2 separate regions of the Homo sapiens genome follow, and region 2 is linked to region 1. Evidence: fine-mapped expression QTL. A gene starts in region 1. The other region holds a variant in brackets. All regions are shown on one strand. Distances are between the middles of the regions.

Evidence for each region. PIP is the estimated chance that this variant, and not a neighbour inherited with it, causes the effect.
Region 2: its variant is the best candidate, but not a certain one, in a credible set for the expression of CLEC1B in whole blood (INTERVAL, PIP 0.68).

Annotation. Positions count from the first base shown.
Region 1 is chr12:9,997,660-10,000,588 of GRCh38, reverse strand. It overlaps CLEC1B (C-type lectin domain family 1 member B), which reads left to right and starts at 1,468. Exons shown (of 6, transcript NM_016509.4): 1 at 1,468-1,552; 2 at 2,209-2,307. The coding sequence starts at 1,489. It also overlaps a transcript of CLEC12A not described here.
Region 2 is chr12:9,975,570-9,978,498 of GRCh38, reverse strand. The region is part of intron 1 of CLEC12A (C-type lectin domain family 12 member A); the gene reads right to left. Among named protein-coding and RNA genes, the nearest start is that of CLEC12A, 5.6 kb to the right of the region's middle. The variant C/T (reference allele first, on the strand shown) is at 1,404.

The DNA of each region.
Region 1 (2,929 bases):
CAACAAAAATGGTGTTGGGATTTAATGTTTTTTAAAAATTTTTAGTCTTTTCTTAAAATTTGGCATTTATTTCAAATGTGTTTTTTTTTAATTAAGAATTAGTTTTGGTAAAAATATTTGAATCATACTAAGTTTGGCTTTCCAAAATCAGGGAATGTCTTTTATACGTGTTATGCTTATTCTTCACCTCATTCTCAAAATAATTTGAAGAGTATAGAGAAAGAAATTTAGAATGAAAGATAATTTTAAGTGAATTGACAAGAAATTCAGAGTGAAGGAGATAGCAGGGGAGAAAAAATCTACGGGCTATGCCAAAGGGCATGTTAATAAACAAAATATCTGCTACTGCAGCCCACATAATCACTATATTGAAAAGTCTAACACTCTGCTAAGTAAAGAAAAATAGAATTCAAATTATTTATAAGGTAAATGCCTACTACTTAAAGCTTTGCTAGTCATGGTGATTTAACAAAAATAAAAATCTGCCATAAAACTATGTAAGAGTTACCCTATGGCAAAATAGACAACATCCTCCCCAATATTCCTATAATAAATGCATCAGCTAGCTTTGTATGGCTGTTCTTACAACTACTTTCAGTGCAAGCTAAAATAATGTAAAAGCCCATTTCATAAAGTTAAGTGTGTGCAATACATATTATATTGTGATGAAAAGGTGCTAGGAACCATTCAGTCTCAAATATTCATCTAAGCACAGCTGTACTTGAAATGAAGTGATTTCATCAAATCAAAATTCTTCCATTCCAGGAAACTCACTTTAAAGCACAAACACTACTAAAGAACAATGCAGCAAGTCACCAACTCTGTATTATTTTACTTGATTTGATAGTTTTCCTTCAATACCTAAATCTAAGCAATATCAGGCCTGCCTCATGTGGATCCTTCAAATAAAAAAAAGTATGAAATATGCAAGAAGTTGTGTAAATTCTAGGTCATAATCAGGAATGATCTCTTCCAACACAAGACTATGAAACAGCTAATTTAGCCCCTATCAGATCCAATTATATTACACTTGCTTCTCACAATGAGATAAACTATATATCTGCTGGTGAGCTATATCCATGAATTTTCAGCAGAAATCTCTCATTTGAGCAATGTAATTTAGACTAAGCTAGGGCTAAGATAAAGCATGAACTTTTGTTCTTAGAAAGGATGCACATGATGGAATGTCCCTTTATTTAGTGTTGAAGATAAAAAAAAAGCAGGAAGCAAATACCTTATCTACTCCTTTACCACAAGTTATTATTATTTTTGTGTTTTTGTGTTCAAGGTCCATGTATCTCTGAGCAGCTATGAAGAAGCTTCCTGGAAAACAATAAGCAAAGGAAAACAAATGTGTCCCATCTCACATGGTTCTACCCTACTAAAGACAGGAAGATCATAAACTGACAGATACTGAAATTGTAAAGTTGGAAACTACATTTTGCAAAGTCATTGAACTCTGAGCTCAGTTGCAGTACTCGGGAAGCCATGCAGGATGAAGATGGATACATCACCTTAAATATTAAAACTCGGAAACCAGCTCTCATCTCCGGTAAGAATGCTCAGAGCCAATAATTTGGAAATTAATTTAAAAAATGAGTTGATTCAATTCTTTCTTTTTCTACTATTGATAATATATATAGTTTAATTTCTTTTTCTTGAATGATGTTAATGCTCTAAAGCATTTGAGTAGTGTTTTCATAAGCTCATACAGACCTATTTAGATTACAAACATCCAATATATGTGCAGGGAAAATTGCATTAAGATTCTGAGCGTTTAATACTCGAGGGCATAGAAGTCAAGGGGATAACGGAAAAGAGTGGAAATTTCATTTTCTATATGTGAGCAAATGAGTGTGATTCTTCATTTGCTGTTTATTAAAGCAATTATTTATGGCATGGGTGAGCATAAAACAAAACAAAACAAAACAAAACAAAACAAAAAATACAAACACATCAGGCCTTAACAGCAAGTAATATTTCAGCTTGGAGAGGTAAAGTGCATTGGAGATGAGAATGGATGTATGGTATAGGGGTGGGCCATGCCTATTGTTGATGATCATGAGGAGAACACAGGTGAGATCTGCCAGCAAAGCTCTTTCTATTACTTGGAGGACCCTGAGAAGGCAGGGGCAGGGGCAGGGGTGAGCCTTCCCCATAGCTAACCCATACTGCCTGCTCCTTGATGTCTTTATTATATGCCTACAGTTGGCTCTGCATCCTCCTCCTGGTGGCGTGTGATGGCTTTGATTCTGCTGATCCTGTGCGTGGGGATGGTTGTCGGGCTGGTGGCTCTGGGGATTTGGTGTAAGTGTTGACTCTGCCAGAAATTTGACTGGAGGAAGGTAATACTGAAGGGTCATGGCATATCCCACTAAGCTTCTCAATGGTCGCTATTTGTCTGTTTATCACTTCTACAGTTGTCCTACAGATAGTTGCCAAGAGAATCTCAATAAAGGAGAACACTGACTGTTTCCTTGTGATTAAAATAAGATTTTAAGATTTTAACTAATGAAAAGTTATTTTTAAGAATGTACTACTGGCCTTTAAGACCCTCCTCAGTGTGGATCCAAACTATTTTTAAAAACTTTTTCATCCCTTTTCCTATCTTGCATTCCTAAGAACCAGCCAAACTGGAGTTTTTCAATTTCATATATAAATTCCATGTTCCCTTGTCTGAAATTTTTCTCATTCTATTCTCTCTACCTAAAATTTTCTGTTTCTCATTTTGTTTACTAAGTTACTGTGCATTTCTTCTTTCTGTAATTCTCATGGCCCTCCAATAGCACATTGAAGTCTGTGTAGTTGTTGCTTGTTTGTGTATTTGTTGATTTTTTTAAAAGATGTTAGAATCTAACATTTATCCTCTTGTATTTCTTTATTATTTACCTGAATATCACAAGTACTTTAAGCATAACAAGAAATCAGT
Region 2 (2,929 bases), 22 kb after region 1:
AGAATTTAGCTGCAGAATGAACAAGATAGGCTGTCTTTTCATAATGTCTTTGGGTGTCCTCCCGTTAGCTTTTGATCTTAATCAGTCCAGATCTACACCATTTTTATTGCAATTTTTCAAAAAAATTTTCATGTGTTTTTGCAAGAAACTTTTATTGAATACTTCCTTTTTAATGAATAGTGAAGCCCAGAATAGATCATTTCTCTATTTAAAAAAAAAACAGGAATTATAAACTTTGTGAGTGAATTATTATTGTGACTATGTTATTTAAATCATCATTATGTATAAAGCTATTATACATTAGGTAAAGACTAGCTAGATATTTCAAGAAAATCCAATTCAGGGATACCATAATAATCTCACTATACTTCTGAGCTATGTCTTACATCTCATAGTTGATGGTGCAATAATATTGTGAAATCCAGAGACAATTACTAATAAATAGTAAAACTTAACTTATATAGACTTTAGAAAATAGTTACTACTGAAAGAACTACATGTTCAAGATTTTATCTAAGATTAGAATTATAAATGCCAGTGCTATCTTTCTTAAAATTATTTTCTTATTTATATGTGTATTCAATTATTCAAGTTTATTTATTCAATGAACTTATTCAATTATTAAAAAGTTCAATTATTCAAAAGTTATCTTTTGAGTGCCTTGTATTTATTAGACATTATCCTGGGTGCTAACAATATCAAAGTGAGCAAGATGTACAAGTTCCTGTTTTCACAGCTATAAATTTTAATTGTAGGAGGAAATAGATAAATAGATATATAAGTGAGACAGGGAGAAAGAAAGAAAGGGAGAAAAGATCTCAAATTTGGCGATGTTGTGCAGAGATTTAAAACTAAGCTGTTATAGAGAGCAGGCAGTTCAAATCTTATGAATAGGAACCAGCATGCAAAATAAGTAGGAAGAACATTACAGGTAGCAATTACATGAAGTTCAAAGACAATAATTTAAGGAAAAGATTTCTATTTGAAAAACAGAATATATTCAGAGGGGCAGAAGAATTGTGGCCAATGTGAAAAATGATGTTAAAGGTTTTATTTGTTTTCTTTTGTTTTGTTTTTAAAATAACAAGGAGGAGACATTATTTACAGCCTTTTCTAGCCAGAATAAGTTAGATTTTTGGGGAAACCACTGGAAGAATTTAATCTAGGAGGGCAAAATAACAGAGTTGTTTTATCAGTAAGAAATCTGTTACAGTATGACATGTGAAAGAGAACAGAAGTTTGACTAGCTAGTACTAGGGAATTTGATGACCCATGGATAAATTAAGTATACATTTCTAAGCTAAAATCTATTGCAAAAATTTCTGAAATTTTTCTTTAGAGAAAGTTGGTAGATATGCACATTTGTAGGCAGTATCTCATAGTGATAAAAAGCAAAACACCAT[C/T]TTTAGGGTTAGCATGTGTATTAGTCCATTTTCACATTGCTAATAAGACATACCCAAGACTGGGCAATTTATAAGGAAAGAGAGGTTTAATGGATTCACAGTTTCACGCGGCTGGGGAGGCCTCACAATCATGGTGGAAGGTGAAAGGCACACCTCATATGGCAGCAGACAAGAGAAGAAAGAACTTGTGCAGGGAAACTCCCCTTTATAAAACCATCAGATCTCATGACACTTATTCACTATCACAGGAACAGCACGAGAAACACCCCTACCATATGATTCAATTACCTCCCACGAGGTCCCTCCAACAACACGTGGAAATTGTGGGAGCTATAATTCAAGATGAGATTTGGGTGTGGACACAGCCAAACCATATCATTCCACCCTGACCTCTCCCAAATCTCATGTCTCACATTTCAAAACCAATCATGCCTTCCCAACAGTCCCCAAAAGACTTAACTCATTTCATCATTAACTCAAAAGTCCACAGTCCATCTGAGACAAGGCAAGTCCCTTCCACCTATGAGCCAGTAAATTCAAAAGAAAGTTAGTTACTTCCTAGATACAATGAGAGTACAGGCATTGGATAAATACGGTCATTCCAAATGGGAGAAATTGGCCAAAACAAAGGGGCTACAGGCCCCATGCAAGTCCAAAGGGCACCAAATCTTAAAGCTCCAAAATCATCTCCTTTGGCTCTATATCTCACATCCAGGTCATGCTGATGCAAGAGGTAGGCTCCCATGTCTTTGGGCAGCTCTGCTCCTGTGGCTTTGCAAGGTACAGTCTCCCTCATGGCTGCTTTCATGGGCTGATATTGAGTGTCTGCAGCTTTTCCAAGTGGACAGTGCATGCTGTCAGTGGATCTACCATTCTGAGAGCTGGAGGACGGTGGTCCACTTCTCACTGCTCCACTGGACAGTACCCCAGTGGGGACTCTGTGTGGAGCTTCTGACCTCACATTTCCCTTCTGCACTGTCCTAGCAGAGGTTATCCATGAGCACCCCATGCCTGCAGCAAACTTCTGCCTGGACATCCAGGCATTTCCATACATCCTCTGAAATCTAGACAGAGGTTCCCAAAACCCAACTCTTGACTTCTGTGCACTCAAAGGCTCAACACCACATGGAAGCTACCAAGGCTTGGGGTTTGCACCCTCTCCGAAGCCATGACCTGAGCTGTACCTTAGCCTCTTTTAGTCATGGCTGGAGCAGCTGGGATGCAGGGCACCAAGTTCCTAGACTGCACACAGCAGAGGGACCCTGGGCTCAGTCCATAATACCATTTATTCCTCCTAGGCCTCTGGGCATGTGATGGGAGGGGCTGCTGGGAAGACCTCTGATATGCCCTGGAGTCATTTTCCCCATTGCCTTGGCGATTATCATTTGGCTTCCCATGACTTTAGAAATTTCTTCAGCTGGCTTGAATTTCTCCTCAGAAAATGGGATTTTCTTTTATTTATCATTGTCAAGCCACAAATTTTCTGAACTTTTATGCTCTGCTTCCCTTATAAAACTGAATGCTTT